Linked DNA regions of Homo sapiens: region 2 is linked to region 1. The links come from fine-mapping of genetic effects on gene expression. A gene starts in region 1. The other region holds a variant in brackets. All regions are shown on one strand. Distances are between the middles of the regions. Region 1 holds the start of MIDN (midnolin). Region 2 overlaps STK11 (serine/threonine kinase 11).

Region 1 (5,353 bases):
GTGTGCGGACAGGTACCGAGGGAGGGGCTACTGCCTGTGTGCGGGGGCCTCTGGGGGCACGCAGCCCCATGGCCATTTACCATGAGGCCCGCTTCCACGGTGGGTACCAAGGTCAGCTTGCTGCCATCACCCACGCCGAACTCCTGCAGCTTCCCCGAACTGAGCCGGCTGGGGGGAGGAAGGAAGAGCATGAGACTCCGCGGAGACGACACAGGGACGCGGAAGCAGAGGCCGCGGGGGAGGGCTGTGCTTGTGTGGGGAGAGACGGATAAGTTCCCACCCCCACCCCTTCCCGGCTTCCAGATCCAGGGCCCTAAGCGCGTGCAGAGAGGTCTCCGTCTGGTGCTGGGAGCCCCATCCTGGCGATTCGGACCCCTTCCCTCCAGTGGAACCCCCGCCCTGGACTCTGGCACCCCCTCTGCACCCCAACCAGGCACTTTCTCCTCCTCTGGGCCCCAGTGTGCTCTATGCCACCTTCCCCCACGACCCCAGGGCAGCCCCTGCCCCCAATTCCCTAATTCTAGTCCTGGCTCCTCTTTGTAGGAACCACGGGTTTCGGCCCGAGGAGAGGCCCTGGGGGTTGCGCCGGGCCGGGCTCCCCCTCCTCCTCCCTCCCCGGCGCAGGCGGCCGCCGCCGCGCAGACAAAGGAGACCCTCCCCCTCCGCCCCTCCCCCGATGGGCCCCTCCACTGGGATGGACACTGCGTGTCCCCGGAGGCCCGCGGGGGGAGGGCTCCGGGCCTGCAGGCGATTTAAATACCAGGGGGGAGGGGAGGCTGCGGGGAGCGCTCGGAGGCGAGAACAAAGGGGGGGAGAGAGACGCAAGTGGGGGGAGACAGCCAGACGCAGAGGAGGCCGCCGAGCAGATGCGGAAGCCGGCGCGGACGCAGGCGGGAGGGGGCGGTGGCGGCCCCCACACCCGCAGCCGGGACCCCCGCAACGCCCTGGGATTCCTGCCCGCCCCCAAGGGGGGCCGCCGAAGCCCGGCCCGGGACGCCCTCGCAGCCGCCTTTGTGCGGCGACCCCGGGCGGGGGAGGGGGCCGAGGCAGGCGAGGCCGAGCAGAGGGCGCCCGAGAGCGCGCGGCGCGCCCCCGCCCCCTGTCTGGCCGCCCCCTGCCTTCCCCGCGCGGCGCGCTCTTTGTTCCCGCCCGGGGGCCGGGGCCCGAGGGGGCGGCCGGCCGGGGGCGCGCGGTACCTACGTGTCTTTGTGGAGAAGAGCCAGGCGCTCCTTGGGCACTTTGAGGCGCTGGGACAACCGCTTGCGCAGCCCCTCCACCGTCTCGTCGGGCGGCACGGCCAGGTCGTAGCGGGTGCCCGTGGTGCTGTGGATGGCGAGGCTCATGGGCGCCGCCTCGGCCGCCGGGCCCAGCTCGCAGGCGCCGCCGGGGGCCCCGCGCCGGCAGCTCCGGGCGCCGCCGGGCTGCGGCTCCATCCCCGGCGCGCGCTGGGGGGCTGGGGGCGGCGGGCGCCGCCAATCCTCGCCGCGCCTCCGGGACAGGGGCGAGAGGCTCCCCGGATGCCGGGTCCTCCGGGCACTCGGGGGCGCGGAGCAGCGCGCGTCCTCCTCGAGAAAGTCCCGGCCGCGGAATGCGAGACCGAAATCCAAAATCCGAGTGGCGCTCCGAGGTCGCTCCGGCTCCTGGGGGCGCCTTCCGGGGGTGGGGACGGCACTTGCTTCTCCTTCAAAGGGCGGCGGGCGCGACCGGGACGCGGCGCGGTTAAGGGTCCTGGGGAGGGGGCGCCGCTCGGCTGGTGGCGCTGGGTGCCGTCTGCCGCCCGGGTCGCGCTTCCTCGCGCGTCCCCTCCCTTAGCAACAGCCGTCGCCGCCGCTCGGAGGATCTGGGGGTGAAAGTAACAAGAAAAAAAAGTTATAATGTATCAACGTTCCAGGGGGCGGGGCCGCCGCCCCCTCCCATTCACTACTTACTCCGCCGGCCGGGCGCCGGCCAATCGCCGCGCGCCGAGCGCCCAGTCGGCCGCGAGCCCGGGCCTATGAGAGCCGCCGCGGCACCGCCCCACGTGGCAGCCGGGCCCGCCCCCTCGCCCCGCCCCCAGCGCCCAGGCGACCAAGGGGAGCGCAGCGGGGGCGGGGCTGGCGCCTCTCCGCGCCCGCCCCCGCCCCGCCCGCGCCCGCAGCCATTCATAAGCGCCCGGAGCCCGCAACAAAGGGCGGGCGCGCCCCGGGGGGCGCGGGACCCAGGTCTGGAGACGGGTCTGGTACCCCTCGCGATCCCAAGGGAGCGGCCGGGAGCGGGAGGGGGCGCGGGCCATTGTTCCCGGCGCCGGGAGGGGCAGGAAGTCGTGGGGCCACCCCGCCGCCTTCGTCCGGGAAAAGCCGCGAGCGGAAGCGGGAGCGCGAAGTCCGCGCCTCGTGGCCGGGGTCCCGGGGCGGGCGGGCGACGGTGAGGCTAGGGCCGCGGCCCCGGGGAGGGCGTGGTGCGTGGGGGCGGAGTTGTGGCCGGGGCGGGGCGCCCGCACCTCGGTGACGTGGCCGGGTGGCTGCCGCCGGGGGCCCCGCGCGCCCACCCGCCGGCCGCGGGCAGAACCCGTTTCCCCGAGGCGCGCCCGCTCGAGCCGTGACGTGACGCGGCGTCCCCGGCTGCGCCCGCGCGCGCTCGGGGATGCGGTGAGTCAGCAGCTCGGGCGCGCCCTCTGCCGGGCCCGCCTGGGAGCGCCGCCCGGAGTCCCGGGGAGGGGGCGCCGCGCTGCCCCTGGCAGGGGAGGAAGACGACTGGGCTGCGCGCGGGGGAGGAACCCCGATCGGGAACGAAAGACTGTAGTCGGGAGACTGGGACCGTGTGGCTGGGCAACGGAGGGCGGAACGGCAACCAGTTCAAGGTCACCCGCGGTGAAGGGGGAGTGCCCCGGGGGGCGGGGCGGGGGCTGAGGTCCGGCCAGGGCGGCGCTGGCTGCGCGGAGCCCCTCCCACCCCGCACCCCGGGGGGCTTCCCAGGACCGGAGGCTCCCCGATCCCTCCTGTCCCAAGAACAAAGAAAAGTGCGGGCATCCTGAGCCATCTAGAGTGGGCACCCTTCCTCGGCCCGCAGGTCCCCCCCCTCCACACTCACCGGGCGCGGCCGGTTCTGCGCTCCAAGTGCTGCGAGTACCTTCGTCCGGGGCCGAATGCGCGCTGGCCGGGCCGGTCTGGGCCAAGCGCGCGGCCCTCAGCCTTTATCCGCGCCGCCTTCCCTCGGGGTGGAGTTAGGGCGGGCAGGGGGGCGGGGGGCCGGGCGGGCGGTGACGCAGACTGGCCCCCGCCCCTGCCTGCCGGCCCTGGCCCTGGGGCGCCTTGACGGCTGGGCCACCCGGGACCCAGGCTTGGCGCAGTTCATGGGGGGACTCCCCTTGAATGCCCCGAGCCAAGGGTCTCGGCCCGCCTCGCCGCGGGCTGAGATGCACCCCGAATCGTCAGCGGGACAGGGTTTTGGGGTGTACAGCGCGACTCGCTGCCCCGCCCCCTTCCTGTCGCCCCAGGCCCGGTGCTTCCGCCTGGGGGCGCCCGCGTGGGGGGGACGGGAAGAGGGGCCTGAGTCAGCGGCTGTCGTCCAGGAAAACAGGCTGGAGTCACCTGCCGTAGAGTGGGGGTGCCCTGGCCAGCCCTGGCCTCCTGCATCTGTCAATGGTGACCTCAGAGGGCATTTATGGAGCGATTAGCCAGTGCCAGGCCTGCCTTGTGCCCAGCCAGTCACCAGCCGGCTATGCTGTGACCCCGGGAGGTAACTGGCCTCTCCAAGCCTCAGTTTCTCCAGGGTGGGTGGGAGTGTGGTGAGGGGATGCGGCAGGATCACTTTGGGGCCATCACCCCCCATTAATGCAGGACATGCACTGGTTCCCAGCCTTTGGGGTGGGCATTACCCCATTTTACAGATGAAGAAACTGAGGCCACAGCCAATGAGACACGAATGTGGTGTGCATCTCACCCTTCCCCGTCGGCTTTTTGAGGATGGTCCTGGTTGAGGTGGGCCCCGTCCTGCCCCTCTATTTAGAGAAGGGGACCCCATTCCTACGGGAGCACCTCCTGTCCACTCATCTGGCCCCTCCCTTTATCTGGCCTGACCACCTCCACCCCCACCCTGGCCATGGGCGCCCCTCCCAGGGCTGCGCTCCTCCCCAGGTCTCCTTCCGGCTGCCACCCATGCTCCCGGCAGCCGTGGCCCCCACCTTGACAGGCACACCCAGCCCCGAAGGGTCAGGGCTAGGCCAGAGAGGGAGAGGCTGGGATAACCCTTGGAAGGGGGTCACAGGGGCTGCGGTTTGAGGAATGACTAGGAGTTTGTCACATAAAAAAGATGATGCGGTCGGGCGCGGTGGCTCACGCCTGTAATCCCAGCACTTTGGGAGGCCGAGGCGGGCGGATCACAAGGTCAAGAGATTGAGACCAGCCTGGCCAACATGGTGAAACCCTGTCTCTACTAAAAATACAAAAATTAGCTGGGCATGGTGGCATGTGTCTGTAGTCCCAGCTACTCAGGAGGCTGAGGCAGGAGAATCGCTTGAACGCGGGAGGCGGAGGTTACAATAAACCCAGATCGTGCCAGGGCACTCCAGCCTGAGCGACAAAACGAGATTCCGTCTCAAAAAAAAAAAAAAAAAAAAAAAAGGCCGGGCGCGGTGGCTCATGCCTGTAATCCTGGCACTTTGGGAGGCCGAGGCGGGCGGATCACGAGGTCAGGAGTTCGAGACCAGCCTGATCAACATGGTGAAACCCTGTCTGTACTAAAAACACAAAAATTAGCCAGGCGTGGTGATGTGCGCCTGTAATCTCAGCTACTTGGGAGGCTGAGGCGGGAGCATTGCTCGAACCCGGGAGACGGAGATTGTGGTGAGCTGAGATTGTGCCATTGCACTCCAGCCTGGGCAATAAGAGCGAAACTCCTCTCAAAAAAAAAAAAAAAAAAAAAAAAAAAAGACGATGGTCCAGGAAGTGGGAATGGCTTGAGCAGTTCTGGGAGCTTAGTGAACTGGACCCAGTTGGAGGGAGGAGGGGCAGGGTCGATGAATGGGGCTTGGATGAAGGGCTGGGGCCCCAGGTGGGAACTACAGGGCCAGGCTCATTCTGCTTCCAGTGAGAACAAAGGTGGCGGAGGGAGCCGTGGACTGGTGCCAAATGAGCAGCCCAAGCAGGACACTGGGGCCCCCTGTGAGTGGCCAGCAGCCCCCACCTCCCTCCCTGCCTCTTGCCTCTCGTGTGTGGCTCTGCCACCTGCACACCGTCACCTCAGTCTGGTCGGGAGTGGAATGGACACCGTCACCTCAGTCTGGTCGGGAGTGGAATGGACACCGTCACCTCAGTCTGGTCGGGAGTGGAATGGACACCATCACCTCAGTCTGGTCGGGAGTGGAATGGGACAC
Region 2 (5,353 bases), 20 kb after region 1:
GTGTGGGGGCCACAGGTGTTCTGTGTGTAGGAGGGTACAGGCATTCTGTGGGGGGGGCACAGGCATGGGGGGTGCACAGGCGTTCTGTGGGGGGGGCACAGGCGTGTGTGTGTGAGGGGGCCACAGGCGTTCTGTGGTGGGGGGCACAGGCGTTCTATGTGTGTGTATGGGGGCCACAGGCGTTCTGTGTGTGGGGGGGGCCCAGGCGTTGTATGTGTGGGGGGCACACGTTGTGTGTGTGTGGTGGGGGTCCACAGGCGTTGTGTGTGGCGGGGGGGCACAGGCATTGTGTGTGTGTGGCGGGGGGGCATAGGCATTCTGTGTGTGTGTGGAGCGGGTGGAGGCACATGCCGGCTGACGCTTACGGCACATCCCGTGCGCAGGTTCCCCCAAGCGGCACCACTTCCAGCGGCAGCGGGCAGCCAGTGAGAGCACGGAGCAGGAGGAGGGGGATGCCCCCCAGGAGGACTTCATCCAGTACATTGCCCGGGCGGGCGACGCCGTGGCCTTCCCGCACCCCCGCCCCTTTCTGGCCAGCCCGCCCCCTGCTCTCGGCAGGTATTTTTCAGTAGATGGAGGTGCTAGGGGTGGACCTGTGGGCCCTTGCCCCCCTTCGCCCCCCCCTAGGCGGCCCAGGGAGCGCTCTCCAGGCCCCGTGGACACGCGCTCGCCTGCCTCCAGCGGCAAGGCCCCTCCCAGAGGCGGACTCACTGGGGCCACCTCTCCAGCATGGACCAGAGGAGGGAAGCAGGGAGAGACTGGGTAAGGGTAGGGCGGTGGGTGGGGAGGAGGGGCCCCCCGAGGATGGCGCTGGTACTGCTGCTTGCTGGTGGAGTCCGAGGCCTGAAGGGTTCTGCTGTGGTCCCAGGCCCTCTCCCACCCCCGCCCCGCCCATGCTCCCAAGGCTGGGCAGACTCCTCTCAGAAGCTGCTGTGACCACTCCGGCCAGCAGCACCCCTCCCCCAACCCAAGGGCAACTTCCCTGAAGCCCAGGGCCCACGTCGGTGGGATGGGAATGGGGCGTGGGGCTGGGGCAGAGCAGGGTTCCTGGGGCAGCCCTGGTATGGCGGGTGACCCTCACGTCTGTGCACTGTCCTCCTGCTGGTTATCCAGCATGGGTGGGCAGAGAGCCCTAGCCTGGAGCAGGGGCTGAGCTGGACTCAACCGCGTCCAGTCCATCCCCTGCGGCTCCCACGTCCACTGGGAGGCTGGGAAAACGTGACTCCCGGAGAGAAGCATGTTGACTTTTCCTGGGGGCTTCCAAGGGAGGGGGCCCCGCCGTCTGCAGTCCAGCATGGAGGCACCCTGCTTAATAAGCAGGCGCCACAGCTCAGGGTCAATGCAAGACGCATCCCCTGCAAAACACACTGGCTCATTTTAAAGCTCTCACCTTCCAAGGCCCGCCCGAGTCCCAAGTCCCACCCGCGTCCACCCTCCCTGATCCAGAGGCGGGATGGCCGGCCGGGTAGGGGGCGCGGGGCTCGGCGGGGCTCTGACGGCGCGGCCTGGCTTGCAGGCTAGAGGCGGCCGAGGCAGCGGGAGGAGCGAGCCCCGATTCCCCCCCGGAGCGCGGCGCGGGCAGCGCGGGGCCTGAGCAGCAGCAGCCGCCACTGGAGCCGGACGCCGAGCGGGACGCGGGCCCCGAGCAGGCCCAGACCAGCTACCGCGACCTGTGGAGCCTGCGCGCCTCGCTTGAGCTGCATGCGGCCGCCTCGGACCACAGCAGCAGCGGCAACGACCGCGACTCGGTGCGCAGCGGCGACAGCTCGGGCTCAGGCTCCGGGGGCGCGGCGCCCGCCTTCCCGCCGCCCTCCCCGCCCGCGCCGCGGCCCAAGGACGGCGAGGCGCGCCGGCTGCTGCAGATGGACAGTGGCTACGCCAGCATCGAGGGCCGCGGCGCAGGCGACGACACCGAGCCACCTGCCGCGCCCGCCCGGCCCCGCAGCCCGCGCGCCTGGCCCCGCCGCCCGCGCCGCGACTACAGCATCGACGAGAAGACGGACGCGCTGTTCCACGAGTTCCTGCGCCACGACCCGCACTTCGACGACACGCCGGCTGCCGCGCGACACCGCGCCCGCGCGCACCCGCACGCCCGCAAACAGTGGCAGCGTGGCCGGCAGCACAGCGACCCCGGCGCCCGCGCGGCCCCGGCCCTGGCCGGAACCCCGGCACCGCCTGCCGGCGCGGCCCGACCCGCGCGTGCGCCCTTGCGGCGCGGCGACAGCGTGGACGGCCCGCCCGACGGTCGCACCCTGGGCGGCGCCGGCGACGACCCCGCCATCCCCGTCATCGAGGAGGAGCCGGGCGGCGGGGGGTGCCCCGGCTCGGGCCTGTGCGTCCTACCATCCGGGTCGGTGCTGGACAAGCTGGCGGCTGGCCTCGACGAGAGACTCTTTCCGCCGCGCCTCGCCGAGCCCGTCGTGGCGACTCCCGCGTTGGTCGCCGCCGCCCCCACGTCCCCCGACCACAGCCCGGCCTAAGTCCCGCGTCCTGGGCCCATCTCTCTGGCAGCTTCTCCGGCGCCGCACGGGGCCTCGGCGGCGGGAGAGACGTGGGGGCGCGACGCCCCGACGCGAATGCGCGGGGACCGCGGGCCCTTCGCGCACGCGCCGGGCGACGGAGGCGCGCTCGCCGCTTCAGGGCGCAGGCGCAGAGCCCCGGCCGCCCTCGCGCCGCCGAAGTGTGCACTGCTCTTTCCGGTGCTTGCCGGGTGCTGGGCGTCGTGAGGCGCGGGCCGCGGAGACCCCGGCTGGGCGGGAAGGAAGGGGCGTGAACGGCTCTCAGCTTCGGGCTCCTGAGGACAACGATCACTCGCCCTCAGTCCCGGACGGGGCGGCCGCTTAGTCGCAGGGCCCGCCACCCGAGGGTCGCGCAGCCCACTGGGCCCGATGGAGCCGCCGCGTGCCGGGCGCGTGCGCGAGCTCGCCCGGGCGGGGGCCGCGGGGCGCTAACGGTCGCAGACGAGTTCGCCGCCCTGGGCCGGGAGGCGGCTCAACACCGTGACTGCCGACCTCCGAGACCGTTTACCTCACTGCGGCGTGTGCTGGCGGCAGCCCGCGCCGCCTCCGAGCAATAACCGCGCCGCCACCGCTGCTGCCGCCGGCCCTGAGGGAGCCGGCCCCGGCCCTCCCGCGCCCCGAGTCCCCACTGCCCTCCGCATGTCAACGGCGCCCGCCCCGCTGCCGCCCCATCCACGTTGAGACGCGAACAAAACCCAGACGGCCAGGTCCAAGCTT[CCCAAGCTTT/T]ATTTATTGCCAAATTTGGGCGGCCTCGCCCGCACGGCACCCTCCGAGTCCCCGCCGCGTCTGCACCATCCCGCGATGGCGTTTCTCGTGTTTTTCTTTTCTGGATGATATAAATATTGACCGCACACTCCTGCTTGCTCCGGGTTTTCTCTGGGGTCCCAAGAGCGCAGTGGCCTTGGGGGAGAGGTGAGGGTCCTGCCCTCCGGCCGGGCCGCCAAAGCAGGGTGACCCGAGAGCGCAAAGGCGGCCGCGACGTGAGCCCGACCCCACAGCCCCCCTGCCACCCAGCAGCTCCCAAACACCCCTCACAGCCACAGCTCAAATCCACCTTTTATTTTTTCTTAAAAAAAAAAAGAAAAAAAGAAAATGGAACCAACCAAACAAAAAACCAAAGCGGCCGCGCGGCTTCCAGGTGGCGCTGCATGCATGGCGGGGTCAGGAGCCTGGTCTCCACACCCGCCAGCTGGTCTGCGGCGGGGCCGCCGGACGGCGCTGGGCGCCCTGCGGAGCACGAGGCCACGGGCGGGGCCAGTAGTCTCCACATAAAGTGCATGGAGGCCGCCTCCCTCCTCCCACGCCCGCCCGGGAAGGCTCCGCCCGGGGCTGCGAAGTCAACAAGCCGCGTGCACTGCCGGGCGGCCGAGGGGGGAGGGCTGCGCCCGGTCCCTGCTGTCCCCCTGCCCGGCCCTGCAGGGCGCTCCGGAGGTCCTGGGGCGTGGTCGGCACAGAAGCATGGCGGCCACCTCTCCGGGAGGGCGGGCGGAACCGGCAGGAAGACTGAGGGCCTGGCGCGGGCACCTGGCGGGGCTCCTGGACACGGGCTGCAGGGTGGAAGGAAGACGGAAGAGGTCAGCCTGGGCACCGGTTCTCCGCCTCCCGCGGGCCCCTGGGAGGATGGAGAAGCTGAGGTACAGTCATGGGGCTACCGGACTCCTGGGGGGCAGCAGGGGAGGCCAGGGAAGGCCACCCTTGAGTCACTCCCGGGGTACATTGTGTGGCCTTTTGCAGTGGGGCCTGGCGGGCTCTGACGCTGGTGGATGGGCTGTGGGCACCCATTTGGGGGACAGACATGTAACTCAGGCGGTGGCCCCCAAAACCTGGGAGAGGGGCTGTGGCAAGGCAGGGGCTTCAGCCTCGGGCCCCCATCCACCCCGCATCCTCGGCAGGTGACTTAAGGGTCTCTGACACCTCTGGGACTCCGTCTCCCACCCGGGGCTGGGGCTGGGGCTGGGAGAGGAGGCAGGCACACAGGGAGAGACAGGGCAGCGTCCGGCACGACTCAGCCTCAGCCATACTTGGCAGCTGGCTCAGAGCCTGCGGCACCCCGGCAGAGCCATGGAGGCCGCGGCCCCTCCCCACCACCCACCACCCACTGGTGCTCAAAAGCCTCTGGGCTGAGCCCAGCATAAGCCTTTCCTGGAAGCGGCGCGGGCATGGGGAGGGGGCGCCAGGCCCAGGGCAGGGTCCTCGGAATGCACCCACTCTGAGAGGTGGCTGTGAGGACGGCACGCCCCCCCAGAGCCCCGCCACACGTAGGCCTCCATGACCAGCACGCTGGCCAGACACCAGGCCCCGAGACGGCACCCTCCACGGGGATCGCTACGTGGCCAAGCCACCCAAAGGCCACATGGCAACCACGCGCAGCCACGTGACGGTCACCATGACTGACTAGCGCGGGCTATGCTCACGGCTGGCTGTGGCATCCAGGCGTTGTCCCCACATGCCCCACCCGGGCCCCGCCGCGCCCCACCTGCAGGCGGCCAGCCTCACTGCTGCTTGCAGGCCGACAGCCGGCGGATCTTGCTGCTGGCGGAGCAGGCCTTGCGGGCAGGGTTGGGGGCCCGGCCCTCCGCCCTGGATTTGGTGCTCAGCTGCGCCGCCTCTGTGCCGTTCATACACACGGCCTTGGGGAGGCCCCGGCGCTGTCCATTGTGACTGGCCTCCTCTTCTGGGACCTGTCCTGGGAGGGAGACGGCAAGTGTGGCCTGAGCTGAGGGGCGCAACCCCAGAGCCACAGGGACCTGGCTGGCCCCCACCACGGGGACGCACTTACAGCTGCTGCCCAGGCCATGCCCGCCCCCGGGTCAGGCCCAGGTGTATCCAGCCTG

The links.
Region 2: its variant is fine-mapped to the expression of MIDN in whole blood (TOPMed, PIP above 0.99).

Annotation. Positions count from the first base shown.
Region 1 is chr19:1,246,377-1,251,729 of GRCh38, reverse strand. MIDN (midnolin) reads right to left here and starts at 3,147. Exons shown (of 9, transcript NM_001388306.1): 1 at 3,070-3,147; 2 at 1,201-1,840; 3 at 81-168. The coding sequence starts at 1,433. It overlaps LOC102723811 (a long non-coding RNA gene), which reads left to right and starts at 3,658. Exons shown (of 2, transcript XR_007067082.1): 1 at 3,658-3,717; 2 at 3,869-5,353. RefSeq lists enhancers at 1-692, 2,537-3,070, 5,006-5,353 and silencers at 584-693, 764-833, 904-993, 1,004-1,123, 1,634-1,683 and 5 more.
Region 2 is chr19:1,226,306-1,231,658 of GRCh38, reverse strand. STK11 (serine/threonine kinase 11) reads right to left here. Exons shown (of 10, transcript NM_000455.5): 9 at 4,996-5,205; 10 at 3,228-4,066. The coding sequence ends at 5,012. It overlaps CBARP (CACN subunit beta associated regulatory protein), which reads left to right. Exons shown (of 10, transcript NM_001393918.1): 9 at 384-558; 10 at 1,517-3,372. The coding sequence ends at 2,480. Among named protein-coding and RNA genes, the nearest start is that of CBARP-DT, 8.9 kb to the left of the region's middle. The variant CCCAAGCTTT/T (reference allele first, on the strand shown) is at 3,237.